7 linked regions of the Homo sapiens genome follow. The protein of the gene in region 7 purifies or fractionates together with the protein of the main gene of each other region. This does not show direct contact. Each region holds a gene or a part of one and is shown on either strand. Other genes may lie near its edges. The genes, in order: SPDL1, DNAJC13, PKN3, POGLUT1, FAM114A2, MTHFD2 and DHX40.

The links.
Region 1: the proteins of DHX40 (region 7) and SPDL1 fractionate together in Homo sapiens (co-fractionation; one large-scale study listed by BioGRID). This does not show direct contact.
Region 2: the proteins of DHX40 (region 7) and DNAJC13 purify together in Homo sapiens (affinity purification with mass spectrometry; one large-scale study listed by BioGRID and IntAct). This does not show direct contact.
Region 3: the proteins of DHX40 (region 7) and PKN3 fractionate together in Homo sapiens (co-fractionation; one large-scale study listed by BioGRID). This does not show direct contact.
Region 4: the proteins of DHX40 (region 7) and POGLUT1 fractionate together in Homo sapiens (co-fractionation; one large-scale study listed by BioGRID). This does not show direct contact.
Region 5: the proteins of DHX40 (region 7) and FAM114A2 fractionate together in Homo sapiens (co-fractionation; one large-scale study listed by BioGRID). This does not show direct contact.
Region 6: the proteins of DHX40 (region 7) and MTHFD2 fractionate together in Homo sapiens (co-fractionation; one large-scale study listed by BioGRID). This does not show direct contact.

The regions. Positions count from the first base shown.
Region 1 is NC_000005.10:169,596,945-169,601,114, forward strand, and holds part of SPDL1 (protein Spindly), read left to right. Parts: intron 1-1,531; coding exon 1,532-1,635; intron 1,636-2,027; coding exon 2,028-2,215; intron 2,216-4,170. UniProt on the Homo sapiens protein: Required for the localization of dynein and dynactin to the mitotic kintochore.
Region 2 is NC_000003.12:132,497,156-132,501,325, reverse strand, and holds part of DNAJC13 (dnaJ homolog subfamily C member 13), read right to left. Parts: intron 2,201-4,170; coding exon 2,016-2,200; intron 1,593-2,015; coding exon 1,518-1,592; intron 533-1,517; coding exon 413-532; intron 1-412.
Region 3 is NC_000009.12:128,705,503-128,709,672, reverse strand, and holds part of PKN3 (serine/threonine-protein kinase N3), read right to left. Parts: coding exon 4,130-4,170; intron 3,940-4,129; coding exon 3,794-3,939; intron 2,961-3,793; coding exon 2,849-2,960; intron 2,778-2,848; coding exon 2,650-2,777; intron 2,452-2,649; coding exon 2,268-2,451; intron 1-2,267.
Region 4 is NC_000003.12:119,474,984-119,479,153, reverse strand, and holds part of POGLUT1 (protein O-glucosyltransferase 1 precursor), read right to left. Parts: intron 1,842-4,170; coding exon 1,706-1,841; intron 821-1,705; exon of another isoform or gene 680-820; intron 1-679. UniProt on the Homo sapiens protein: Dual specificity glycosyltransferase that catalyzes the transfer of glucose and xylose from UDP-glucose and UDP-xylose, respectively, to a serine residue found in the consensus sequence of C-X-S-X-P-C.
Region 5 is NC_000005.10:153,989,427-153,994,359, forward strand, and holds the end of FAM114A2 (protein FAM114A2), read right to left. Parts: intron 3,685-4,933; coding exon 3,550-3,684; 3' UTR 722-3,549; downstream 1-721.
Region 6 is NC_000002.12:74,201,200-74,205,369, reverse strand, and holds part of MTHFD2 (bifunctional methylenetetrahydrofolate dehydrogenase/cyclohydrolase, mitochondrial isoform A precursor), read right to left. Parts: intron 3,989-4,170; exon of another isoform or gene 3,891-3,988; intron 1-3,890. UniProt on the Homo sapiens protein: Although its dehydrogenase activity is NAD-specific, it can also utilize NADP at a reduced efficiency.
Region 7 is NC_000017.11:59,568,247-59,572,416, reverse strand, and holds part of DHX40 (probable ATP-dependent RNA helicase DHX40), read right to left. Parts: intron 1,900-4,170; coding exon 1,754-1,899; intron 1-1,753. UniProt on the Homo sapiens protein: Probable ATP-dependent RNA helicase.

The sequences.
Region 1 (4,170 bases), on a different chromosome or scaffold from region 7:
GTAAAGGGACAGAAAAGAAAAATCTTTTTCCTCACTTACTCATTCATTTATATCAGTATAGCCTCATGGATTCTTATTTTATCCTATGAGTTATAATCCATTGCTTGCTTTATTTACTCTGATACTCAAATTGTCCCAGATTTGATAGTCGAAGTGCTCTTACTTGAATATTTCCTTACTCTATGGCACAACAAGGGTTTCCTAGCTCACCTGGCCCACTTCTGGGATTAGCATTTCTTCAAGGAACATTGGTTTATTTTAGTTGAGAATGGTATTTGTGTAAGCATTTGTGTGTGTGTGTGTGTGTGTGTGTGTGTGTGTGTAAGAATTCACCCATGTTTTCTAAATAAGTAGGCAGTTGTCCCAGAGTCATTTGTTAAAAAATCAATCTTGATCCCAGTGATTTGAGTTGACACCTTTATCATACATCAAGTTTCCATATATACTTGAGTCTGTTTCTAAATTTTCTGTCTACGCCATTGGTCTGCTTCTCTGTGTGTCTGTACCACACTGTTTTATTAATTATAAAGGCTTTTAAGTATGTTTATCTGGTAGGACTATTTCCTCACTATACTTTTTATTTTTCAGTATTTTCCTGTCTATTTTTGAATGTTAGCTTTCATTTACAAACATCTTGTCTAGCACCAAAAAAAGCTTGTTGGCTTTCTATTAAAATTGCATGCAATTTAAGATTTTATAAATTGACTTAGGGAACATTGATATCTTCATTAACCTCCTAATGAACTAAAGTTCTAAATGACAAATTTTTGTAAATGTTAATAACCTCTTAGGCATTCTAAATTGTAGCCATTAGTATGTCATAAAATCTTAATTAAGTTTACATAACTTTATTTCTGTGTCTTATAAAAACTGTTGAAAGAACTACAAATTTGGTTAAGTTGGCAGCCTTATGTTTCCATCAGTGGGCTCAGAACTATACTCTGAAAATTATGGCCTTAAATCAGGGGAATTTTATTTATAACCTGAAATTGTTTCAAGTTTTTAAGCAGATTTACCTTTTCTATCCCACTAGAGAAATGTATAGTTTCCATCAGTCTCAGAAGAGCTTGCACTACATTCTTGCCTGGGGTGGGGGGAAGAATCTCAGAAGAGGGGGACACCAGATATAAATGTAAGGCTCTCATCTTCCTTTCATATTTTTCCAGTTTATGGTTTTGTTACAAAGGCCAGAATTTAATCCAGCAGGCATTTGTTTTTCTATTTTCAAAGCCAGGAGAGAGAAGGCAGAGCATGTAGGTAAGGCTAGAAGCCTAGGCCTTGTAGTCAGATTTGGGTTCAGGTTCTCTCTTCTTGGTTTACTTTCATCTGTATTCGGAGCCTGTTTCCTTATCTGTAAGAGAGGAATGTTAATTATTTACCTACTTCAGAAGGCAGATAAATTAAATGGGTAGTTCTTAGCGTAGTACGCCAAGGGATATAAATTCAGGAAGTGATGGTGCTATTATTAATAAACATACACTAACCTTATTTGTTATTTATTTTAAGTAATACAAACTTTTGCTTTTTTAAGAATTTATATGACAGTATGGAATCTAAGCCTTCAGTCGACTCTGGTACTCTGGAAGATAACACCTATTATACAGATTTACTTCAGATGAAGCTGGATAACTTAAAGTAAGTGTCTGGGTTGGTGGATGGAAAGATGAACATGTCACTTGCTTACTATGGTAGTGTCAGTGACTACAAAGTTTTTTTGAAATTGCCAAAGGAAATTTTCCGAAAAGAAAGGTAACAAAAATATCTTTGTGCAGATATTCATGTGTGAATACATTTGAAAGACTATTTCCTCCTTTGTCCATTTCCTTTCAAGAATGCATGAGTATTTTTTAAATTTAACACTACTATTGTTAAGGATTATTTAAATTGTTTATTGTTTCTTTGTTACTAAAAACCCCAGAAAAATGTATTTTTAACTAAGAATTCAAATATGCGATGAAATATTTATACCACTACACTTATTATATGCTGTCTTAATACTCGTTGGTTCTCCTTTTTTATTATCATAGCAAAGAAATTGAAAGCACTAAAGGTGAATTGTCCATACAGCGAATGAAAGCATTATTTGAGAGCCAGCGGGCTCTAGATATTGAGCGAAAACTTTTTGCAAATGAAAGATGCCTCCAGCTTTCAGAAAGTGAAAATATGAAACTGAGAGCTAAACTAGATGAATTGAAACTAAAATATGAACCTGAAGGTATATATGTCTCATATATTTTTGTCTTTTAAATTATGAGTAACCTGAAATTATATCAAATTATTTTCTTACTGTAGTTTTATGCAACTCTATTACAAACTCATTTGTAGTTATATACCTATAGTTAATAAAGCAAATTTATTGTGTAAAATAGGTAGGAAAATTCAGGGAGAACTGGATACTGGGTGTGCCTGAATATAACATGTATCCTTTTTGGATATCTAATTTCATCATACTGTATAGTAGAAACTTGAGATTTGAGACTTTCCCATTTTAAGATTACAGTATTTTATGTCATACCTAATAGTTTAATTATGTTGAAGCAGCTGATGTTTGGAAGCTATACGAGGTAGGACTGTTTATAGAAAATCTAAAGTAATGGAGACTTTAAAAAGGTGGGTCTTTATCTCTGCCTCTGATGGAAGTCTGGAGGAGGCCTTCCAGGACTGGGAAAGCACTCCACGGTATCAAGATTCAGGCTTCTTGTGTTTGTTGGTCTGCTGCCATCCTGTGGAGCAGAATTTAGTCATGCAGCCTCACCTGCTGACAGGAAGGGCTGAGAAATGCAGTCTTGATTCTCAGGGGCCATGTTCCTAACTAAATATTGGGAATTCTTTTATTAAGGAAGAACAGTGAGCCAGGCGTGGTGGCTCGTGCCTGTAATCCCAGCTCTTGGGGAGGCAGAGGGAGGAGGATAGCTGTGCCCAGGAATTTGAGATTTGCTTGGGCAATATAGCAAGACCCCATTCTCCACCAAAATGGGGGGGAAAGGAAAGAACAATGAAACATATTAGGGAATATCTAGCAAGTCTAATGACTGAGCTGGAAAGTAGCCTAACCATACAGTCTCTGCATCTTATATACTACAGAGAGTGAAGTTTACTGTATGTAAATTCAAAAACAAAAGGCCAAGTGTGAAGGAGTCTAAGAATGTGATGGTTCTACAACACCCCTTCCCTAAAAGAGTGTTACATGTTTTAGGTTAAGGATTCTCAACAAGTTTTTGTCCCCGCACTCTGCACATGCCTCAGTCTCTCTTCGTATTGTCTCAGTGAACTGCTATGATTCTCAACAATAGTGGGGAGGTTGCCAAAAATAGGAAGGTTTTTACACAATTTTAAAAGGCTTCTCTTGCTCTTAACTCTTTTTGTTTCTTCCATGATTCTAATAGGCTCCCCTGATTAAGAATTATCCATTATGAATTTCAAACATCTGTTGAACTGAACACAGCAAATAGACAGGAGGCAGGGTAGTGAATCCTGATAATGTGGGTTTCAAAGGAGCAGTGCCAGAAAAAGGGGAAATCATGGTCTAAAAGCAACAATGTAGAGCAAAAACAGCAACCCCTTGTGCTACCAGTGTTCCTCAGACTCCACTAACATTTTGATTTTGAAAATGAAACACATCGATAATGGGCATAGGGAAAAGATATTAGAGCAGTTAATTCAGTGGCTGTGTTTATGACCTGTTTAGATAGAATGATATTAGGCCATGAGGATAGAAGGCATTGCAGTAGTCTTTGATGAGACATGATAGGATTGGACTAGGGAAGTATCCATCATAAAAGTAGTCTGATTCTGCTTATATTTTGTAGGTAGAGCTAACAGGCATATATTACCAATATTCAGAAAGTTTGGCCTATTCTTGTCATTTAATCCTTCTAATACACAATACCAAGTGAAGTGGGTGCTTTTAATCCCCATTTTACAGATAAAATGAAGCTCAGAGAGGTTAAATAATTCCCCAAAGACATGGCTGTCACATACGAGGATTAGGATTCGAACCTGGACTCTGCCGCTGTCTCTTCATCTCCACACTGAGATCTTATGAACCACCTTTTTCAAAACACCAAGAGAGAACAGTGAAGCATTCATGCCTAAAGTCAAAATATTGAATTCCCAAGGAAAAATATATAGCCAAATAAACTTTAAAATATATAGTTTATATAGATTCCA
Region 2 (4,170 bases), on a different chromosome or scaffold from region 7:
TTCTGCAGTGTTGGCCAGGCTGGTCTTGAACTCCTGACCTCAAGTGATCTGCCAACCTCGGCTTGCCAAAGTGCTAGGATTACAGACGTGAGCCACCACACCGGGCTGGCCTTTTGCTTTTAAAAGACTTATTTATTACAGGCTTCTCTTTTCTCCCTGCCACTCATTCTAATGTTCAGATGGAACCCACTTCCCTTTAGATGTATCACTTTAGTCTTTTTCTTTGTAGGCCAGCCTAGAAGCAAAGCCTCCATTTACAGCAAGGCTTCTGTGAAAAATGCTTTTAGAAATCCAAATAATTTTACTTACAAATAACTTTGGGAAAACAATGTGCTTATACATTAGGAACTGGCTAGTTGACAAAAAGACACTTTGCTGTCTGTATCTAGAAAGCATTAAAGATTAACCCTACCTTGCCAAAATATAGTACCCGACAGAGATCCTTGATGATGCTAGGCATTTCCGTGATCTTCTCTCGGCATTCCTCAAACTGAGCAGCCACACTGTAGCATTTACTTATGTATCCACACACCTGCAGACAACACAACAGAGCAAAAAAACCAGTAGAGTCACATAGGCATTCCTTATTTAACACATAGAAATCAAACCAGCAGAAATTTGTGAATAATGCTTAATGGTATATACAATGTTCCAAAATTAAACAGAATGTCTTTACTAGATCACTAGTCTTTCTCATTAAGATTTCCTATAAATGCTGGGGTAGTTGGCAAACCACAGCTACTACAACCCATGGGCCAAACTGACCATGGTCTTTGTACTGCCAAAGAGCTAAGAATGGTTTTTAGATTTTTAAAGGGCTGTAAAAAAGTCACAAAAGAAAATGTAACAGAGACTGTATGAAGCCTGAAAGACTCATATATTTACTCCCTGGACCTTTATTTTAGAAGTTTGCTGGCCTCTGGATTAAGGTAATTTTGTATAGTTTATTAACATAGCAGAATATCACAATTCTGTTTACACAACGGACTTCAAAATAGAGGATGGAACTCAACAGCCAGTACTCGTTTTATATTCTGAATTTTGCTGGCATAAGCAAAAGGTCAAATAGAAAGACACGCTCTACAAAGCTCTTAATGAACTCCTGATGAATTTCCTATCTTACAACCTTAAATGTTAAGCCAATTAAAATACTAGAGATAGGAGAGTGAGGGATGGAAGATATGTGAAACAAGAATGGCATTAAGCTGGGTAATGGAAACATATGGGTTCAATAAACTATTCTCTAAGAAAGAAAACGTAAGCCAACAGATCACAAGTGCTTTAGTACAGTTTCTTACAGTGTGATACACAGACCAGCAGCATCAATGACACTTGGAAACTTGTTATAAAAACATACTCTCAGGCCACCACCCCAGACTCACTGAATCAGAAACTTGGGGTGGGGTGGAGCTCAGCAACCTACAGTTTAATGAGCCCTCCAGTTGATTCTCAGATATGTTAAAGTCTGAACCATTGAACTAGTGCAATTTTCTTGGAACCACAGGTTTTAGCCTCACCTGTACTGACATGTCACTTGGTTTACTAGCACGAGTCAAGACAGCCACACAGCGACTAAATGCCTCTTGTAACACCTGCAGAGGAAGAAGTCAGCTATTAACTCTCCATTTTGACTTCAAGTCTGAAAGGCCTTTTCTAGCAGTAATAAAATATAAATAACCCTTTAATGTTAAATATTTGATACATAAATGTTTGATCAACATTTGTTAATAAATAGTAAACAAAGGACTCCTAAAAGTTTCCTTTTAAGCATTTCTAATAAGCTACTTTGTAAACAATATTACCATTATCGGTTTTGAACCCAATACTTTCCAACTCACATTGTGAAATAAAGCTCCATTTCTACCTTTAATTTGGTATAAGAATATGGAAAATATTGTGTTATCTGCTGAAATAAATTAAAGAATCTGCATTTGTACTTGCTGAATTCTTCACTGCCAAGAGTCATATAATGTGTGTAAACTGGCTTAAAAAGCACAAAGGTCACTCCGTATTACCTCTAGTCCATTCTCTCTTCTGAGCTCTTCAGCATTGAGGGCTGAACAGTTGACAGTATGGAAAGCTAGCTCTGTAGCCGCAGGCAACAATGGTGATTCTTTTGAGAAAAGGAGGTCATCTGAAGTTTCCATTGTTATAGTCCGAATAAGCATGGGGTATCCTGCATATTTATAAGGCTGTAAATCTGAAATAACCAATGGTTAGTGTTAGAAAAACAAAACAAAATTGATTATGTTGTGGTTTCAATTTTGATACCATGTTCAAGAATATGTTGCCTTAAAAAAATAAAAATGGGGCCAGGCATGGTGGCTCATGCCTGTAATCCCAGCACTTTGGGAGGCCAAGGTGGGTGGATCACGAGGTCAGGAGATTGAGACCATCCTGGCTAACACAGTGAAACCCTTTCTCTACTAAAAACACAAAAAAGTTAGCCGGGTGTGGTGGCAGGCACCTGTAGTCCCAGCTACTCGGGAGGCTGAGGCAGGAGAAAGGTGTGAACCCGGGAGGTGGAGCTTGCAGTGAGTGGAGATGGCACCACTGCACTCCAGCCTGGGCGACAGGGCAAGCCTCCGTCTCAAAAAAAATAAAAATAAAATAAAATAAAACGTAAAAAAAAAGATAAAATATTTTATCTTAACATCTTAAATGCCTCCTAATGCCAGTTGATAAAAAAAGAAATTAAACCTACTATAAAATCCCTTGGATCCTTCCTTTCTAGTAAACTTGGTTGATTTTTCTAAAATGTTTCCACTAGAAAAATAACATTTTCTGGTAAATTAACTGCACTTGGTGTATAGTTTTGATCCTTTGCAGAATACCTACTTTCTATGCTGATCTTTGTAACTTTTCACCTCATCACAGAACGCAAGGTACAGCAAATGCACCAGAAATTCTATTAATATCAATTATATGCACATCTTTATAAAGAAAAAAGACTGAGAAGACATTTACATGACACTGAATATTTTATATTAAGTTTTCTGGATAACAAGTGCCCTTGTTTATCTATTTTACCAGTATCTATTTTACCAGTTATCTTAAAGATAACTGGTATCTATTTTACCAGTTATCTTAAAGTTTTACCAGTATTTTCTTAAATTTGAAAATAATACAATTTCTTACTAGAAGTACAAAACAGAAAGTTAACTTTTAAACTACATTTAGTTAATTCCATGTTTTAATAACCAAATTTAAAAGTGAAAGCTAGTAAACCTACATGCCTAATTACTCTGTTCTTTCCATCTTCTTTTTTCAATCTAACCTATTAGGCAAAGAGATGCAAATTAATTGGCTGTGACTTTAAAAGTATCTCTATAATTCCAATTGAAATCAGCATAAATCTTTTTGACTTTTGAGGCTGACCAATAATCTGCCTTAAAACTCATTTCTAAACTGGCTTTTAAAAAAAAGGCCCCCTGGAACAGGTCCTAATTTTCCTTTAAAAAAAAAAAAAGTGACACATACGTAATAAGAAAGAACAGTGAATAACTAAGTCCTGTCAGATCAGGACCTCCACCTCAGAGCTTCTTGGGTATAAACCCCTCTTGGGAAAAGTTAAAGATGACCTTGATAACAGAGAAACCAGGATGGGCCATAACTGTATCTTGTGGCTAATAATTTAGTTATCAGCATTAAAAGACAACCAAGGGTTTTGAAAAAGGTTTCCAAACTCATTCTGATTAGTAAAAGCCATATATCTAAAATGTATTATAAACGTATTCTGTTAAACTCATGTAAAAGTAAATCAACTAATCACTGCTCTCTTTAATAATCCAACTGCTAGATCCTCAGGTTGTCCCCTCCAATACTTAAACTGCAACACCATCTCTTGTCTTTAGTTACCCAACACTCTCCATGCTTATCTCAAATCCTGAAAGTCCTCTTCCTTCTCTCCCAACATACCATAGCAAATGGCTCTCCCACTTTGTGCTGTAAGTCAAGTTCAGTTCCCAAGCCATTGGGCATCTGCCATATTGAACCTAACCCCTCATCCCCAACAAAGGGGGATGTTTTGAACATACTCCTGGCTTTCTGACTGCTACTGTTAGGGCTACTGCAAATGGCCCCACAAACACTGGATAATCCTGTAATCTGAAATTACACCTATTTCATCTATACCAGTGTTCTTCAAACTGTCCCACAGGACTAGAGGGT
Region 3 (4,170 bases), on a different chromosome or scaffold from region 7:
TCAAGCAATTCTCCTGCTTTAGCCTCCTGAGTAGCTGGGATTATAGGCATGCACCACCAGGCCCGGCTAATTTTGTATTTTTTAGTAGAGACGGGGTTTCTCCATTTTTGTCAGGCTGCTCTCGAACTCCCGACCTCAGGTGATCCACCCACCTCGGCCTCCCAAAGTGCTGAGATTACAGGCATGAGCTGCCGTGCCCAGCCTAATTTTTTTTTTTTGAGACGGGCTCTCTGTTGCCCAGGCTGGAGTGCAGTGGCGCGATCATGGCTCATTGTACCCTCAACCTCCCTGGGCTCAAGCAATCCTCCCACCTCAGCCTCCCAAGTAGCTGGGACTACAGGTACGTACCATCATACCTGGCTAATTTTTTTATTTTTTTATTTTTTTTTGAGACAGAGTCTCGCTGTGGCCCAGGCTGGAGTGCAGTGGTGCGATCTCGGCTCACTGTAGGCTCCGCCCCCCGGGGTTCCCGCCATTCTCCTGCCTCAGCCTCCCGAGTAGCTGGGACTACAGGCGCCCGCCACCACGCCCGGTTAATTTTTTGTATTTTTAGTGGAGACAGGGTTTCACCGTGTTAGCCAGGATGGTCTCGATCTCCTGACCTCGTGATCCGCCCGCCTCGGCCTCCCAAAGTGCTGGGATTACAGGCGTGAGCCACCGCGCCCGGCGATTTTTGTATTTTTTGTAGAGATGGAGCTTTGTCATGTTGCCCAGGCTGGTTTCAAACTCCTGGACTCAAGTGATCCACATGCCTCACCCTCCTAAACTGCTAGGATTATAAACATGAGCCACTGAGCCAGACCAGAAAACTCTTTCTTTTTTTTTTTTTCTTGAAAGAGTTTTGCTGTGTCACCCACGCTGGAGTGCAACAGTGCAATCTTGGCTTACTGCAACCTCTGCCTCCCAGGTTCAAGCAATTCTCTTGCCTCAGCCTCCCCAGTAGATGGGATTACAGGCATGCGCCACCACGCCCGGCTAATTTTTTTTGTTTCTAAAGATGAGGTTTCACTATGTTGCCCAGGCTCGTCTAGAAATCCTGGGCTCAAATGATTCGTCCACCTCAGCCTCCCAAAGTGCTGGAATTACAGGCTTGAGCCACTGTGCCCAGCCAAGAAAACTTTCTTTTTTTCTTTTTTTTTTGAGACTGGGTCTCAAAAAAACTCCTGAGCTCAAGCAATCTTCCCACCTCAGCCTCTCAAAGTGCCAGGATTATAGGTGTGAGCCACTGCACCCAGCAATTTTAGTTTAATTTTATTATTTTTTTTCCAAGGAAATTATTATTATTATTTTTTGAGATGGAGTCTTGCCCTGTTACCTAGGCTGAAGTGCAGCGGCGCAATCTCAGCTCACTGCAACCTCACCTCCTGGGTTCAAGCAATTCTCCTGCCTTAGCCTCCCGAGTGGCTGGGACTACAGGCATGTGCCACCACATCCAGCTACTTTTTTGTATTTTTAGTAGAGACAGGATTTCACCATGTTGGCCAGGCTGGTCTTGAACTCCTGACCTCAGGTGATCCGCCCACCTCAGTCTTCCAAAGTGCTGGGATTACAGGCATGAGCCACCATGCCTGGCCCAAGAAAACCTTTTTTTTTTTTTTTTTTGCGACGGCGTCTTGCCCCGTCGCCCAGGGTGGAGTGCAGTGGCGTGATCTCGGCTCACTGCAACCTCCGCCTCCGGGGTTCAATCAATTCTCTGCCTCAGCTTCCTGAGCAACCAGGATTACAGGCACCCGCCACCACGCCCGGCTAATTTTTGTATTTGTAGTAGAGACAGGGTTTCACCATCTTGGCCAGGCTGGTCTTGGAACTCCTGACCTCATGATCCACCCACCTCAGCCTCCCAAAGTGCTGGAATTACCAGCGTGAGCCACCACGCCCAGCCTAGAAAACTTTCTAACAGTCCAAGCTGCCCAGTGCTGGGTATCAAGCTTTCCAGGGCTGCGAGCTTCCTAACACCAGTGCTTTAAGCATTATTCTGGTTATTTATGTAAATACAAGCTACGCTGTCCGAGTGCTGACTGTGCTAGGCACTGTGCTTAGCACATCACGTGCAACACAGCAACCCTATGAGGTAGGTGCTATATCATCCACATTTTACAGATGGATAAACTGAGGTTTGAAGAAGGAATGTCAGTTTGCCAAGGTCACGCTGCTAGTGGGTGCTGGGGCAGGACTGGAACTCTTGAACTCTTCATCAGAGTTGTTTGTGCTTCCGGCCTCCCCCCAAAAAGAAGGAGAGCTTTGAAGGGGGAGGAACTTCTGACTACCTGTTAGGGCGGTGGGCTTCACAGGTGTCCCTGAAGGCTGGGGGTATCCAGGCACCGCAGCCCGCAACTCTCGGGTCACTCTGCTGCGCAAAGGGTGGGCAGGAGGCAGTTGCTCCAGCAGCTGCTCCAAGGCCAGGCGCAGGAGGTCCAGTTTCTGAGAGGACTCCTGTAGCTGGGCCTGGGCCTGCAGAGGGGACAACGTAGAGCCAGGTTCGTGGGGTATATGGCAGGGGGCAGCAGCCCAGGTCACCCGGAGCCACCTTCCGCATGAAGTCTCAACAGAGAAGTCCTGCTTTTACACGGCCACCCTCCCTTCACACCCCTGCTGAGGGTGGTATGGGAACAAGCCAGCCTTAGGAGAGGGCCAGGGCTGGGGCCTGACCTCAGCCAGTGCCTTGCGGTCCTGTGTTCTCCGGCTACTAAGCAGTTTCACCACGTTCTTGGCGCCCTCAGCCACAGCTGCCTCAACGTGCAGTCGATGCTGTAGCTCCTCCGCCAGCAGCTCAGGCCCTGTGGGAAGGACGGCGGCTCTCAGGCCCTGCTCTTCCCTGCTCCGCCCTCCCTGTGTCTCAAGGCCTCACCTGGCTCCGGGGACCCACTGGCCTCCAGGCTGCTGATCTTCATCCGCAGCAGGGCCACCTTCAGCTGGCTGTCCCGCAGCATCTGCTGGGCAGCTGCCAGGAGCTTCCTCTCCTATGGAGCCATAGCACAGGCCCATCAGACCAGGCCTGGGCCACAGCTTCCCCCATCAGACCAGGAACTGGAGCCGGGTCTCCCCCATCAAAACAGGGTTAAAGTGAAACCTCTAGGCCAAACACTAAAGTCAAGCCTCCCTTGTTGGACTAGTTGGTGGGTCAGGGGAGCCTTTTCCATCTGACCAACAAGGGCTGGGGTCAAATTTCCTCTTTCATATCACGGCTGGGGTCATGCCTCTCCCATCAGATCAGGGCTGGGGCTAACTCTCCCCCATCAGATCAGGGCTGGGGCTAACTCTCCCCCATCAGATCAGGGCTGTGGTCATGCCTCCCCCATCAGAGCAGGGTTGATGCTTCCCCCATCAGATCAGGGCAGGGGCTAAGCTAAGCCTCCCCCATTAGATGAGGGCAGGGGCTAAGCTAAGCCTCTCCCATCAGATCAGGGCTGGGGATAAGCCTCCCCCATCAGATCAGGGCAGGGGCTAAGCTAAGCCTCCCCCATTAGATCAAGGCTAAGGTCCTGCCTCCGTCATCATATCAGGGCCACAGCCAAGTCTTCTTGTCAGACAAGGACTGAGGCCCAGTTCTGGACATCATGCTGGGAGTTGGGACTGGGGCTGGGCTAGGATCCCATTAGACCAGGGCAAGGCCTTCTCTGTCACACTAGAGACTACAGCCATGCCTTCCTCACCCAGCTGGGGTTTGGGGCTGTATTTTCCCCATCAGGCTGCAGGCTGGAATGGTGTCTCCTTATGAGCCCAATGGCTGAGGTGCATTTCCCTGTCAGACCAGGGGCCAGGGTGCTCCTGCCATCAGACTGTGGGGCCTTACCTTGGGGGTGCCACTGGCGCACGTGTGGGTCATGTTCTCAGCCCCCTGCTTCACCTTCAGCTCCACATGCAGCTGCCTCCGGAGAGCCTCTAGGTGCCGAGCCCTGAGCTGCTCTGCCCACGGCCGGGGTCCTGAGGCCACAGGCTCTGTGCACGGGGGTATCGAGCACAGGAGTCCCTCACCCAGAGCCGAGACCCCCACTGTGGCCTTTCCTCCTTCCCCTACTGATCTATAGGCAGGAAATGAGGTGGTCTCGCCACAGTGGCCAGGGCCAAGGCCAGGGGCCAGATGGGCCTAGAGCCTTCTGTCCTGAGGGGGTCTCAGCTCCTCACTCACCAGCTGGGCCAGGCCCAGGGCCGGGCAGCAGGATTCGGGCG
Region 4 (4,170 bases), on a different chromosome or scaffold from region 7:
GTTTGAAATCAGCCTGGTCAACATGGTGAAACCCTGTCTCTACTAAAAAATACACACAAAATAATAGCCGGGCATGGTGGCAGGTGCCTATAGTCCCAGATACTCAGGAGGCTGAGGTGGAGAATCACTTGAACCTGGGAGGTGGAGGTTGCAGTGAGCTGAGATCGCGCCACTGCACTCCAGCCTGGGCAACAGAGTGAGACTCTGCCTCAAAAAAAAGAAAAAAGTTTAAAGCCATATGTTCCCCCCTTTTTTTTTTTTTTTTGATCCACCTGCCTCGGCCTCCCAAAGTGCTGGGATTACAGGTGTGAGCCACTACACCTGGCCTCCATTTGTTCCCTTTTTATGGTTACTTCTGTTAAAAATCTGGCCACTGATAAACCTCTAACTCTACTATTTCTTCCACTGGAAATACATGTGCAATATGCTGTTTGCTGTCTCTCAAATATGTAAAAAATGTGATTCATCAAGCACCTTAAACATAACAGCTATTCAATAGAAGCTGCACAATTAACTATAAAGTTGACAGAGTAAAACTCTCCCTTGGAAACTAGAAGTCACTGATTTAAAAAACAGAAGGGAAGTAAAGATGAACGGAAAGTTAGTATACCGACGGTCATACTTTATTATCCATAGAAACAACAGATAGATAACAAACACGAAGTCCCTACTGACTTACATGGGAGCCTCTATCTGTTCTTCTGAGTGAGTTTCATGACAAACAATGGAACCAAACACTTTCGAGAAATGAGGCTAGACCATGGGAAATGCAACACAAATGTGGCCTCTGCCCACTTGCAACACAGGAAATAAAACAAGTCTAGGGAGAAAGTAAACTATGATAAAGAAAAAGTGGGGATAAAAGGTCCCTCTGCTTTAGACAAACCAAATCAGAAATAGTGTTCCTTTTCCCAAATTTCATGGGGTTTTCCTCAATTCACTCTTACCCCATAGAATCTTCCATCCACTCTCTTCTAGCCTTCCTGCCTTCACCCCCAAATGCTTTCCTTGTCTCTAGGGAACCAAGGCCCATCCCTGCCGATACAACATTTACATGAACCTGAGCACTGACAAGACATTCCTTGCCCCCAATTCCCCAAGCCCACAGGTGTATCCTAGCTACTCCAATCTTCCATGATGAGTCTAAAAGATCACCCCCTTGCATAGCCCTCTAGGCTATCTCCAGCCTATCCCTTCAATGCACGGCTTGTACACACACCGTGTGGAGTTATCTGGCACCTTCAGGTTCACTTTTAGCCACCCTGGGCCCCCGGAATATGGTGACAGATGGGACAGCTGATACCCAGCACTATGGCTGAATATATACATAGTAGGAGCTCAACAAACTTTTGGAATGAAGGTGTTCCCTAACTCCAAGCTTTCTTGGACCCCTTCCTCCCATGCTCTGTAAGATCTTCAAGACCCACCTCTAATTCCTGTAGGTTTCTCAGGCCTCTCACGCCCTAGCCTCCATCTCTAGCCCTATAGACACTCAAGCAATCTTACACTACTTACCAGCTCTCAACTTCATCTCCTCTGTCTTTTTGCTCAATCACTGTGATGCTAATAGAGACACAGACCCATTTCTGGACCTCAGTCCTCATCCTTACCATTATCCATCAGACTATGTCACCGGACAAAGATCTCATGCTCATATCCTAGAGGACCACTCTCCATCCACCCATGTGGCTCTCCCTGTACTTACCTTACTGAAGGAGAAGACTGGGATGGCAGGCTCCATCCATTTAGGAACCTGAGGATAATCTCGTACATTGATCACCATCTCCATGTCAGGGAGACGCCCGATCACTTCCAAAATAAAGTGCTCAACACCACTACACCTGTCAACCAGACATACCATAAATTCAGCAGAGTAGTGCCTGCAGGCTCTAGGACAAGGCGAGGTCCCATTCACATTTTAAAGTAAGACAAGCCAGTGTTCCAGTGTTCCATATCATCAGTCTACTGCAAAGTCTCCTGAAAACAATGCTTCTAAAGGGGCTATTCTGCTTTTTTGTATTGTGCAAGTTCACTCATAGCTAAGCTGCTCCAGCTTACAATACTTAATAAAATTTTCCAAATAAATCGTCATAGCTTTGAAGGGAGTATTATTGCTACTTCTACCACTTTATTCATTCCAGTTCTTTTCTTTATTTCCCTTATATGGAATAGTTTAATTAGTAGACAAGATACAAACTCTCGTAATAGCTGAAATAGCTAATTTTCCACCTGTGTTCCTTTGGCTTTGCTCCTCACAAAGACACCATTTTTATTTCCATTATAATTAAGTCTCCTAGTTTATGAGAACAGATAGAAAACCTTTCATTACCTTCAACCTGAATAAAGAACATTATCAAAATCAGTTCTGCAAGCCAGAAAAAGTGTTATATACATAATCATAAATAGTGTAACACAGCTTTCTGACTAGATTCCCTGGGAAATCAGGGATTTCTTGAAAGAAAAAGAAGATACACTGACAGTTTAGCTTGTTTCTGCCTCATCCTCTGAGGTCCTGACCAGCACTATGCTAGGGGCAATATTCAAAGGCTTGATCAAAATTTTCTGGCAGCATGGAAATAACTGATTTAAAATATTGTTTTACTACTTGGGAGACTTAGGCAGAAGGGTTATTTGAGCCCAAGAGTTCTAGACCAGCAACATAGTGACACAGTAGGCAATGTAGTGAGCTCCTCTAGCCAAAAAAAAAAAAAGTGTTTTTTATATAGGGAGATAACTGCAAAAAATATCAACAGTTCACAAACATAGGAAAAGATGCTCAACTGTATTAATAATAAAGAAATGTCAATGAAACTAGATACCAATTTTACCAATCAGATTGGCAAAGATCAAAAAGTCCAATAGTGCAGTGTTGGTAAGGGTGTGAGATCTATTCACAGCATATGATATATCGGTTGTGGAAGTGTTTAGCCTCTTTGTAGGACAATTAGATTCTATTTACCAAGATTTCTCTTTTTTTAAGGTTTTTTTTATTTGAGGCAGGGTCTCTCGCTCTGCCACTCAGGCTGAAGAGTGCAGTGGCATGATCATGGCTCACTGTGGCCTCAAAAATCCTAGGCTCAAGCAATCTTCTCACCTCAGCCTCCTGAGTAGCTGGGACTACAGGTGTGTGCCAACACACCTGGCAACTCTGTATGTGTTTGTGTGTGTGTGTGTGTGTGTGTGTGTGTGTGTGTGTGTGGAGAGACAGTCTTGGTATGTTGTCCAGACTGATCTTGAACTCTTGGGCTCAAGTGATCCTCCCACCTCAGCCTCCCAAAGTGCTGGGATTACAGGTGAGAGCCACTGTGCCCAGCCTGTTTATCAAGATTTTTTTTTTTTTTTGAGATGGAGCCTTGCTCTGTGGCCCAGGCTGGAGTGCAATGGCGCAATCTCAGCTGACTGCAACCTCCACCTCGGGTTTCAAGTGATTCTCCTGCCTCAGCCTCCCGAGTAGCTAGGATTACAGGCACAGGCCACCATGCCCAGCTAATTTTTTTATTTTTAGTAGAGATAGGTTCTCACCATGTTGGCCAGGCTGGTCTTGAACTCCTGACCTCAGATGATCTGCCTGTCTCAGCCATCCAAAGTGCTGGGATAACAGGCGTGAGCCACCTCACCCAGCCTATTTATCAAGATTTTAAAATGACATTAATTGCCCTAGTTATTATACTTTTAGGAATTTAGCCTACATATATATTTACATGAGTGTTCACAGTAACAAGGATGTTCACTGCAGCATTGCTTGCGTTATCCAAAAAGCAAAGTGATGTGGTAAGGGATAATCTAAATGTCCACTGATAGAGGGCTGAATAAAGAAATCCATATAATAAGTTATTATGCAGCCATGAAAAAGTGAGGCATTCTCTATGGACTCTTATGGAACAATCTCAAAATCTACTGTTATATGGAAAAGAAATCTAAGTGCAGAACAGAAGACAGCATGTTTTATTTTGTTGATGAGTCTAGATGCTTGTAAATGTACAGACTATTTCTAGAAGGATATACAAGACACAGAATTCTAATTGTCTTTTGAAAAGAGGTCTCAGGGACTAGCAGTCTGAGGGTCTGAGGTGGAAGAGAAACTTCCTTTTCACTGAATGTCTTTTGGAGGTATCCAAATATTTTAGCATGGTAAAATATTTGGATATTTTACATATCCAAAGTGTATGT
Region 5 (4,933 bases), on a different chromosome or scaffold from region 7:
AAATGAGTTGAGAGAATATTCAGATTTTTAAAAAAATTGTCTTTAGGACTTGCCTGGGGAAATGATAATTAAACATGAAGGGCCTTTGGGATTTGGCTGGACGATACAGTAACAGGGAAGGATGGGCTTCAAGTTAAGTAGGGAGGACCGAATGAACTAGTGTTTGAGGAACATCAAGGATATACTCAGAGAGTCAGACCAGTGGGCAAGTTTTCAAAATTCTCTTCATACAGTTGCCAGAGGCCTTTATGACATGTTAACTAAGAGGCTTATTATTTTTAGAACTTTCTCATTTCTCAAATGCTTTTTAAGTCTTTTATGAAAAGAGATATCATGTGTTGTTAAGAAATAATAAAAGGGCCAGGCACAGTGGCTCACGCCTGTAATCCCAGCACTTTGGGAGGCCGAGGCAGGTGGCATCATCTGAGGTCAGAAGTTCCAGACCAGCCTGACCAACATGGAAAAACCCTGTCTCTACTAAAAATACAAAATTAGCCAGGTGTGGTGGCACACACCTGTAATCCCAGCTACTCGGGAGGCTGAGGCAGGACAATCACTTGAACCCAGGAGGCAGAGGTTGCGGTGAGCCGAGATCACGCCACTGCACTCCAGCCTGGGCAACAAGAGTGAAACTCCATCACACACACACACACACACACACACACACACAAAGAGATAATAAAACAGCTCAGTCTCTGACATTTGTGAAATATCACACTTGTTGAGTGCCCACTGTGGGTATAATTTTATTCTGGGTTTTCTAAACTGAAGAATTCAGGTTTAAAATTCAGAACACCTCTAGAAATACAGAAAAATGTCTATTTCTCAAATGGAGATATCAATAGCAACTACCTATAAAATAGCTCTCCCTCAAAAAGGTCTTTCACTAAAAACAAGTACAAAAGAAAGCATCCTTTTTCAGCAGTAGGAACCCACAAGATCTTGTTCTTTGATTACAGGATTGAAAAATTCACATTTGTACACCTAGCACTGATTTCAGATTCATAGTAATGCCATCTATAAAAATTACAATTTCACATTTCAGAGGCCTGCCAACCTGGATATCTATGCTTAAAAAAAAAAAAAAAAACTATCAAAAGCAAGTAAGGAAAATATAGCTTGTCCTTAACACATTTCTAAGGTATTATGCAAAGGAAAATAAAAATTGTTTCATAGAGGTTTCTACTTCTTTCAGATCAAATTAATAAAGTCTCTCTTAATCACAGCCTTTTAAAATCTCAATAGTAGGAAAAGACACATTTACCCTAGCAATACCTGAACATTTCACTTATTAAGGTTTTAAGTGAATTGGAAAGGCATATATTAGTAATTAGTGGTAAATCTTAGACACCAAAAATTTAAAAGGAAAATAGTACCAAAAGTGTAGCTGTTAACAAAAAACTAAAACACTGTAACTACCCCAAATAAAATAATGAAGCACATACTATCCAAAAACCATCACCATAATCCAGCAAGTTCCAAAGTGATCCCTGAATTTACCTACTCATCTGTCATGAATGTTTATGTTTCTCTATGTCTACTGGATCAAGGAATCTTAATTCTTTTTCAGTATATTTTATGTGAAGAGTAGACAATTGTTACTCAGAATTGGGCCTTTCATCATTTCACTAGTGGTCCCTAACTCCATTAAAATAAATAAATATATATGGGGGGGTGGGGAAGATGAGAAAAAAAGAGTTAGTGAGTCATATTTACCTTATGTGAGACCTAATCTAAAATTTGCCAAATTCAGGGCTGAAATCTGAATAGGTGTATAAAAAGAGTTGTTACTCTCTCCTTCATATGTATACCCCATTTCTTGAAAGAAAAACCTTAAATACATTTCTAGGTTAAGGATTTAAAGCTGCCAAACTGCCATTGTACAAGAGGCTGAACAGACAGTAGGCAGAGTGACCAGTTTCTAAACTTTGCCCTCAAGGGATACAGGTTCAGACACATCAACCAAGCTTGAGGCAACAATTCAGAACTGGTGACACCAGCCTTTGTAACCAGAAGGCAACTGTTTTTCTGAAACTTCAGAAATATTCAAGCTGGAAAGGGTGAAATTTGTCTTTAAAAAGGAATATTCAAAAACTTTCTGATCATATTAAGACAGAATATAGGCAGAGTAACATTGTAGTGCTGTTGGTATACCTTTTTAAACCAAATTTATTTCTCTTCCTTGCTTACTAACTGACTCCTGCCCCAAAGAAGATTACGTAGAAACAGTCTTTATACTAATCTATGTTATGGCTTTGCTTTGCTATTTTTTTTTTTTTTTTTTGGTCTAAGTAAGATATTAGGGCTCGTGTTTACAAAAGTAAATGAAAGGATCAAATAACATGATTAATACATTTTATTACAAAGGTTTTAGAAGATGAGGGGCAGAGCTAACAAATTACCTTAATCATTAAAAAACCACAAAGTTGGAGAATTTTTTTAAAAAGAGTGGATACCAAAATAGCTTTTAGGAAGACGACAGCTTAATAGTCTCTTAAATTGCTGAAGAGAGCAAAAGAAAGCTTAAGATCTGGAGGATAAAAGTTATATCAAAAACATGCTAAAGAATACATTAAAACAAACAAAAAGGAAAGAGGAAAAAATAAACTATGCCTTAGAAGTTAAATCCTATCATAAATGAACATCATTTCTAAAGGACTATGGCCCACTTCAACACTCAAACAAAAAAATCCTCATTGCTAAAACAGCTTCAACATTCCTTTGGAGTTTGCTGTTAAAGAATTTATCCTGCATATATGGTAGACACGAAACACATCCTGAAGAGACTCAGAATATCTGCAAACATAAAACTGCTTCTCTAAATTGCATTTACTGGCCTTGAATCCAGTAGAGTAGGGTTCAGCTATGACATGAAGTGTGTCATCCTGGGGAGGGGGAGCAATTTGAAGAAAAAGGGCACTTTGCTACAGTTAATTCACATGGCTATAATAGTCTACAAGTTTCTCCTCAATGCCAAATATCTACTAAGAATTTAAAAAAGCAGATGAAACTTTCTATTTCCAAGAATTCATGTGATAAAGGGTAATCATCACAGAGTTTACATATGCTCAGTTTTCTTAAAGCCATAGATTTTATTCCAGAAAGGAGAAAGTACATGGCATTAATAAACCACACATGCCATGAATTTTAGAACACTAAATTATTTTTCTCTGGCTTATCAACCAGTTATATCCATGGGCTGCAAATTATATCCATGACAAAATTGATAACATTTTGCAACATGTCAAAGAAAGACCAACATTTTTGCCTGAGTGTCCCACTAATCTTTATCTAGAGTTATTATTCTTGGACTTTCTACAAAAGTTTCTTTTCAAATAATTTATGAATTACAACAACTGGAAAGAATACTGTGAGAACCTGAATACTTCAATCAAACACTGAAGGCAACAATCTTCCTCTTTAAACCATCTCTCCTGCCTGAATTTTTATATACTAAAATAACCCCACTCCTTCATTTCTGCAGGAGTAGCCAGAATAAGGTGGCATTCCTTGGCCGTCACAAGTCCCAGGTCAAAACGTCTCCATTCTTCAATGTTCTAACAAAGGTTTCTGGCCCTGCAGCTCATGTCTGTGTGATTCAATCTTGTTCTCAATGAGAGAGATCTCTAGCACAGGTAAGAGTAGCTGAAAGGCGTCCTGGATGTAGGAGGCACTGTTTGATGCCTGCCAGGATTGAAAAAACAAGAAAAAGAAAATATTAGTTATTTAAAAGAGAAGATATACTGTAAGGCAACAGGGGAACAGATTAATTTTTGTAATCTAACTGAATTCATAGCCTGGCAAGTAAGAGCAGTGACTTGGCCATTTTGGTAAACTCTATTATAGGGAGAAGAATTTAGCTCTTAAGATGATATGAGCACCAAAAGAGAATGTCAGCATTTTGTACAACTTGCCCATCAGACATGGTAGCTTTTCTTTGGCAACATGGTCAGACTTGGCATTCAAAGCTTATTTATTCCTTTATTGAGTAGGGTAGATTCTGTCACAATATTGTGGTCAATTACTGAAAGAGGCTTTCAGAAGGCTATAAATCCTACACCTATAGAATTTCTAGCCCATTATGATAGCTCTTTTTCCATGGACTCAATGCGATCAGTGAGCACAATAACTGCTCACACACATAAACATCTTTCACACATATACTGCTTTCAAAGATGACAGTATAGATATATTTCTATCTTGAACAACATTTTTCAGAAGTGTTAGAGAATCATTACCCTCAGTTTGCTGGACTTCATTTATACTGAAAAGCCCTCACCTTTCAAAAGAATATCAACAGAGAGCTCATTAAGATAAAAATGTATAATTTCGAAGACAAGAGTGTTTCAAATCTGTATCCAAAAAAAAAATCCACTAAAAATAATAGGGAGCCCATATCAAGTGATATTACCTTTTTAAAATTTATCAATGGCAAGTACTATTTAAAATTCAGTGTGACATTTAATACTCAATTTCCCACACAAAAGGGACCTCAGATATCGTCTAGTTAAATCTCTTATGTTGCACATGAAAATAACGAAGTTTGTCAGAGTCACACAACAAATCAAGGAAGATCCAGGGCAACACGGGGCTCCTGGTTTACAAAGTCTTTTCTACTGCACCACTCTGCCATTTACTAAATCACAAACTTATATTTTTAAAAATTATTACAATGATCAAAATAGTTTCCCTGACTACTTGATTAAAACTGTGTAATTAAAGAATTAAAATCATTTCCTTGATGGTAATGTCAAAAGAATTTAAAACTAGAGAAGTAAGAGTTTGGTAGTTAAAACATTTTTTCAATTAACATCTAAAACTTAACTATCAAATATATTTTCTCCCCCCAGACTTACATAAACATGTTTTAAACAAATCATCAAAAAGTCTATGTTGTCTGCACAGTTAGTTTACAAGGTAGAGTTCTTAAAAC
Region 6 (4,170 bases), on a different chromosome or scaffold from region 7:
TGCTACACCACCCTGCGCCCTGATCATTACTAAGTGTTTTACAGTTTTAATTTGCAATTGTTTGACCCCTCACCATGAGGTTAAATAGTTTTTCTTATCTGCTTATATGCCATTTGTAGTTCGTGTTTTGTCCCTGTTGTTAGCAGCCAGGCATGTATTTCAAATCATTTCCCAGTCAACTGACTTCATTTTTATGGTGGTTTAAATCGATAAATTATATTCTGTAGTTGAATAAACAAACAATATAGGCCGGGCACGATGGCTCACGTTTGTAATCCCAGCACTTTGGGAGGCCGAGGAGGGCAGATCACAAGGTAAGGAGTTCGAGACCAGCCTGGCCAACACATGAAACCCTGTCTCTACTAAAAATACAAAAATTAGCTGGGCGTAGTGGTGGGCTCCTGTAATCCCAGCTACTCAGGTGGCTGAGGCAGGAGAATCACTTGAAACCAGGAGGCAGAGGTTGCGGTGAGCTGAGATTGTGCCACTGCACTCCAGCCTCGGTGACAGAGCTAGACTCCGTCTCAAAAATAAACAAACAAACAAACAACATACTGGACAGGTCAAACATCAAAATGACCACCACTCCCCACAGTCCCTTCTGGGGAAGACTTTCCTGGTAAGAATAGGGGCAGGGCAGGGGACTGGAGGAAGCTCCTTCTCACAGTTGGCAATGTGCTCTTCCCAGGGACCCCACCATATCATCCAAAGCTGACAGACCAGGAGTGAGTATGTGACGCCAAGGGCAACAATCTCTAGGCTGGCCAGTGGTCCAGTTGGCGCAAAAGCTTAGCTCAACAGAGCAGTGAGAGTTAGTTGAACCAGTAAGAGCTCGTCCCTGAGGCAGTTCAAACTAGAACCACAGAACAAAGACAGAAAGAATAGGCAGAATAATAGTCACACCAATGGGAGACAACAGGGCAAGAAATCAGAAAACTGTTGCTGAGGTGGGGAGCAAGAAGAAAAATCAGGATCTAGAAGAACCTCCAGTTCCCAAAACCATGTTCAGCTGCCCGAAAGGCTGTCTCTTCCCAAAGAGAACTGCTTATGCAACTCTTCCTGGGTTCCATGAAACCCAAATGTGGAAGAGTCCCAGTTTTCCTATTTTCACACATGTCCTTACAGTAAAGTGCCCATTACTTAAAGATGAGCATCTGGCCCAGCGTGGTAGCTCAAGCCTGTAATCCCAGCACTTTAGGAGGCCGAGGAGGGTGGATTGCTTGAGGTCAGGAGTTCCAGACCAGCCTGGTCAACATGGCAAAACCCCGTCTCTGCTAAAAATACAAAAATTAGCCAGGCATGGTGGTGCGCGCCTATAATCCCAGCTACTCAGGAGGCTGAGGCAGGAGAATTGCTTGAACCCAGGAGGCAGAGGTTACAGTGAGCTGATATCACCCCACTGCACTCTAGCCTGGGCGACAGAGAAAGACTGCATCTCAAAAAACTAAACTAAACTAAACTAACTAAACTAAACTAAACTAAACTAAACTAAACTAAACTAAACTAAACTAAACTAAACTAAACTAGATGAGCATCTCTTCCTTAAGTAAAATGATCCCATTAAAAAAAGCCTTTCCCTTTAGATCTCTGTCCTTGGTGTCATGAAGACTGCTCTAACCTCAAGACCAATGAAGTAATCTCCTCTTATATTCTAAAACCTAACATCAAGGTACTGAATATCCTGTAGGGTCAGATAAAATTAATTCTCAAGATAACTGCTAATTTATTTATTTATTTTTTTTGAGACAGAGTCTTGCTCTGTTGCCCAGGCTGGAGCAATCTCAGCTCACTGCAGCCTCCCAAGTTCATGCAATTCTCCAGCTTTTGCCTCCATAGCTGAGAATACAGGCACCCACCACTGCACCCGGCCAGTAACTGCTAATTTAAATGGGATTTTAAAGCTTTCACAATCTTTAGGCCTTCAATAAGTGTTTTTTATTGCATTATGATTAAATACCAACTTTAAACCAAATCTCAACATCTTAGATATAATGCAATAATCTTATATATAAACTTTATCTTAATCTGTATTGCATCTTGTGAAGTATTAAATTATTATAATCTGGCCAGGCACGGTGGCTCATGCCTGTAATCCTAGCATTTTGGGAGGCCAAGGTGGGCAGATCACTTGAGGTCAGGGGTTTGAGACCAGCCTGGCCAACATGGCAAAACCCCGCCTCTACTAAAAATACAAAAATTTGCCAGGCATGGTGGCAGGACCCTGTAATTGTAATCTCAGCTACTCGGGAGCTGAGGTAGGAGAATATCTCGAACCCAGGAGGCATAGGTTGCAGTGAGCCAAGATCACGCCACTGCACTCCAGACTGTGTAACAGGGCAAGACTCCATCTCAAAAAAAGAAAAAAGTTACAATCTTACAGCAAATCAAATACTTTTACCCTGATTTTATATAATACTAGCATGGCACAACATATAATAGCATTTAATTATACCCATGGTATATGAAGAAATTGAAAACATATTAATATTCACAATTCCATTTCAGAATTAGAGTCGAAGAGGACTTCATTAAAAGGGTTTTGCAGGCCGGGCATGGTGGCTCACATCTGTAATCCCAACACTTCGGGAAGCCAAGGTAGGCAGATCATGAGGTCAGGAGATTGAGACCATCCTGGCTCATATGGTGAAACCCCGTCTCTACTAAAAATACAAAAAATTAGCCGGGCATGGTGGCACGCACCTGTAGACCCAGCTACTTGGGAGGCTGAGGCAGGAGAATCGATTGAACCCGGGAGGCAGAGGTTGCAGTGAGCAGAGACTGCCGTGAGCGGAGATCGTGCCACTGCACTCCAGCCTGGGCAACAGAGTCAGACTCCATCTCAAAAAAAAAAAATTAAAATAGGGGGGTTTTGCTGATACAAATACACCTGGCAACATTCCTCATTCCTGATTTGTATTAGTACCTGGAATGCCCACCGCAGGCCAAAAATACATTCCTAATCCTGGAACACTACAGAGTGAAAGACTACTTTAAAACGGCTTAGAACAGTCATTTATGTTGAATGAAATAACAAACATATATAATGTGCCAGGCATATATGTTCAATAAAACTAATTTCTTACTCTTTTCTCTTGGTTTTATATATATATGTATATATACACACACATACACATGTATCCTTAAAATAGATACACTTACACATAAGGAGATATATATAAGTATATACACTATATGTATATCTAGTCAGTGAGAATGACTTAGCTTGCACCTCATAAAAAGTTTCTTTTGAAAGCAGTAAACTTAGAGAAAATGGTATTAGCACATTCAGATAAAATCATATACTGAAGTTAAGGACACAGGGTTCTGGGAAAAGCCAGTGTTCCAAGTCCCAAACTTTGCTTCCAAAAGCAGGTTCTGGATGTTATGCCAATTTGCTTAAAAAAAAAAAAAGAAAAGAAAGAAAAACAGTCAAAGAGTAACAAGAACCAAAAACAAAGTCACATGCAATGAATATCTTTCATAGTATAACTGTCAGCCCTCCTCTGCTTCCCACAACTCTGCAAAATGTGAAATACAGCCTTGGGAGTGAGTCATTAACTAATTTAGCATCATCTCTTTTGCCAAGGGGCAGATTAACTGCTACCCCAAAATAAACAGGGAAATGGAGAGTCAGCTAAGTCCCACGGGGAATCCAAAATTGTAACTATATTAGCTAACATTTATCCCAGAATTAAATGCATTCACAGATGTGTTTAGAAAAAATTCCCAGGGCTGGGCATGGTGGCACAGGCCTTGTAATCCCAGCATTTTGGGAGGCCAAGTTCAAGACTAGCGTGGGCAACATGGTGAGACCCCATCTCTACTAAAAGTTAAAAAAAAAAAAAATTAGCCAGGCATGGTGGTATGCTCCTGTGGTCCCAGTTACTCACAAGCTGAGGTGGGAGGATCACTTGAGCCCAGGAGGTCAAGGCTGCAGTAAGCCGTGATTGCAGCACTGCACTCCAACCTGACCTAGGGAGAGATTCCCCTGCCAAAAAAGAAAAAAAAAAAGGAAAGAAAAAAATCCCATTAAGATAGGTAATCAACAGAATAGGAAGAAGTCAAGAGGACTGTTCAAATAAAATCCAAAACTGTGGCTCATGCCTGTAATCCCTGCATTTTGGGAGGTCAAGGTGGGTGGATCATTTGAGGTCAGGAGGTCGAGACCAG
Region 7 (4,170 bases):
ACTTAGTAAGACACTATCTCCAAATAAAAATGTGTTACTCAACAAGCATTAAAACAGGGTGAGAAAAAGGTCCAAAGGGTAGGAATAACAGCAACGACATCCATAAAACAAGGGAAAGAAGAAAGAAAAAACAGTGACCACTAGGAAGGCAAAAAGATAGTATTTTGGGGAGTCATCTTGTGCCACATTTGATGGCCATTCCCATTAGGGAACATATGTAAACCAGGGATCGTTTTGTAGCTGGACAGGATTAAGAAATCCACAGGGAATGTAAATTATAATATTCACTATTAAAAAGAAAATTTTAAATTTGTTGGTGCCATGAATATAGAAGATGCTTTAACACTTGCTGATTTTGTTAATTGGCTGATTTTGTTAATTCAGCTTTCCATTGACTTCAAGAATACAAACACATAAAATAAATCAACCTGAAAACATGCTCAGTGAAATAAGAGTGACACGAAGTACAAAATATTGTGTGATTCCACTTGAATGAGGTACCCGGAGTAGGCAAATTTGTAGAGACAGAAAGTAGAACAGAAGATACAGCAGGGCGCGGTGGTTTACCCTGTAATCCCAGCACTTTGGGAGGCCGAGGTGGGCAGATCACAAGGTCAGGAATTTGAGACCAACCCCATCTCTACTAAAAATACAAAAAATTAGCTGGGCGTGGTGGCAGGAGCCTGTAAACCCAGCTACTTGGGAGGCTGAGGCAGGAGAATCACTAGAACCTGGGAGGCAGAGGTTGCAGGGAGTGGAGGTTGCGCCACTGCACTCCAGCCCGGGCAATGGTGTGAGACTTCGTCTCAAAAAAAAAAAAGAAGTTACCAGAGGCTAGGGGGAGGGAGAAATGGGGGTTTTAATCTATAAGAGTTTCTGTTTGGGATGATAAAAAAAGTTCTGAAAGTAGAAATGGTGATGGTTACCCAACATTGTGAACACATTTTTTTTTTTTTTTTGAGGTGGAGTTTTGCTCTTGTTGCCCAGGCTGGAGTGCAGTGGCGCGATCTCAGCTCACCGCAACCTCCGCCTCCCGGGTTCAAGCCATTTTCCTGCCTCAGCCTCCTGAGTAGCTGGGATTACAGGCATGCACCACCGTGCCCAGCTAATTTTGTATTTTTAAAAGAGACAGGGTTTCTCCATGTTGGTCAGGCTGGTCTCGAACTCCTGACCTCAGGTGATCCACCCGCCTCGGCCTCCCAAAGTGATGGGATTACAGACGTGAGCCATCGAGCCCAGCCCATTGTGAACATACTTAATGGCACTGAATTGTATACCAAAATAGTAAAATGGTCGATTTTAAGTTATATATATTTTACTACAATAAAACATTTTAAAAACCTACATGTCAAGAATCCTTACAGTTAAAAAACATAAATAAGAGAATCCTAAGAAAATAAACTGTCATTTATAAACTAAGGAAGGAGAAAATGGGATGAACATCAGACACTTGAGAGCTAAAGCATTAACAATGAACAACAAAAATAAATTCTTTAAAATATATATTGAACTTTGAAGTTAAAAATCTTTCAGAACTCTCTCCACTCTTTCTGTTAAGTTTATAACATTAGCTGGGCATGGTGGCATGCTCCTGTAGTCCCAGCTACCCAAGGGGCTGAGGTAGGAGATCACTTGAGCCCAGAAGGTAGAGGCTACAGAGAGCCATGATTGCGCCACGCACTCCAGGCTGGGCGACAGAGCAAGACCCTGTCCCATAAAAGAAAAGAAACAAATACCAACAAGACTTTTGTACCTTAGAACTGCAATCATCAAAACGAACTTGGTATCCTACTTTGGATCCCAAAGTGCATTTCATTTCTTCAGCTACTCTCTGAGCAACTGATATAGCAGCTACTTTTCGTGGTTGAGTTACACCAATCATACCATGTTGTGAAAACCCTATCAAAACCAGAGATAAAGAAACACAACAATGTTAGCAATTGTCTTCCTATTAGAGCTAAATTGTTTTTGGCCAATCAACACAAAACTGCTTGAATGTTTCCAAAAGAATATCTCGCAAATTAAAAACACACTGCTATGTTTGCATCATGGAAATTTAAATATTAATTTAAAATAATACATATTAATAACCATGCAAAAATATATTATATATATAATATATAAATATATATAATATAAATCCAGTTTATATTATATATATTTATATATTATATATATTATATACTAATATATATTTAATATATAATATATATTATAATATATTATATATTATATATATTAATATATAACATATTATATGTATTATATAATTTATAATATATTATATATAAATATACATTATAATATATTATAATATATACTATATATTATATATAAATATACATTATAATATAATGTATATTATATATATTTAGACAGAGTTTTGCTCTTGTTGCCTAGGCTGTAGTGCAATGGCGCAATCTCGGCTCACCGCAACCTCTGCGTCCCAGGTTCAAGCAACTCTCCTGCCTCAGCCTCCCGAGTAGCTGGGATAACAGGCATGTGCCACCATGCCGGGCTAATTTTGTATTTTAGCAGAGACGGGTTTTTTCCCTGTTGGTCAGGCTGGTCTTGTACTCCCAACCTCAGGTGATCCACTTGCCTCTGCCTCCCAAAGTACTGGGATTATAGGCTTGAGACACCACGCCCAGCCAAAACAAAAAAAAAGAAAGAAAAAATTATATATATATCTATATATATATATAGATATATATATATTTTTTTCTTTTTTGAGACGGAGTATTGCTCTGTTGCCCAGGCTGGAATGCAGTGGCGCGATCTCGGCTCACTGCAACTTTCACTTCCTGGGTTCAAGCGATTCTCCTGCCTCAGCCACCTGAGCAGCTGGGATTACAGGCGCTTGCCACCAGGCCCAGCTAATTTTTTTGTAAAAAATATATTTTTTAAATTAGAATTCAGGCTTTGTCTGTTTTTTTCTGTCTAAAAATCTACTCTAAAGGTAAGCCAAGAATTTTGAAACATAAGAATTCATAAAATTCCACACACTTCCCAAAATAAATTTACTTTTGCCACAAGAGTAAAACTGGATTTATTTATTTATTTATTTATTTATTTATTTATTTATTTTTGAGATAGAGTCTTGCTCTGTTGCCCAGGCGGGAGTGCAGTGGCACAATCTCGGCTCACTGCAACCTCTACCTCCTGGGTTCAAGCAATTCTCCTGCCTCAGCCGCCTGAGTAACTGGGATTACAGGTGCGCGCCACCACACCCAGCTAATTTTGTATTTTTAGTAGAGATGGGGTTTCACCATGTTGGCCAGGCTGGTCGCAAACTTCTGACCTCAAGTGATCCATCTGCCTCAGCCTCCCAATGTGCTGGGATCACAGGCATGAGCCACTGCACCCAGCCTAAAACTGGACTTAAATATGCCACCTTTCTGCTGGGAGCAGTGGTACACACCTGTAATCCCAGCTACTCAGGAGCCTGGCTACTCAGAAGGTTGAGGTAGGAGGATTGCTTGAACTCAGGAGTTTGAGATCAGCCTGGGCGACATAGTAAGATCTCATCTCAAAAAAATAAATAAATATATATATCTATATTTATATATATATATATATGCACCTTCCATATACCATTTTAATATATTTGGGAATGGAGCTGCATCTTAAAATCGATGGCGCATTTCCATTCTTACTAATACAGTAGTCCCTCTTTACCTTTGGTTTTGCTTTCCAATTTTTCAGTTACCTACAGTCAGTGGAGGTCCAAAAATGTTACAGTACTTTGAGAGACAGAGAGAGACCACATTTACAAAAGTTTTACTACAGTATATTGTCATAACTGCTCTATTTTATTGTTGTTGTTGTTAATTTCTTACTATGCCTAATTTATAAACTAAACTTTATCAAAAGTATGTATGTATGTATAGGAAAACACATAGTATATGCAGGGTTTGGTATTATTGGCAGTTTCAGGCATTGAGTGGTCTTAGAAGGCATCTCCCAAGGATAAGAAGGGATTACTGCACATAAAATAGTGATATATCTTAATAGATGGCACCTTAGATTGAAGCATTAGAATAATACATTTGTTATTTTTTAAGGCAAATCATATCCAATATAATACTGCTCTTTACAAACCTTATGACAGAAAGTTCTGTCATACTGAATGACACTTGTCAAAAAACAAAATTACAACAAATTTATTTT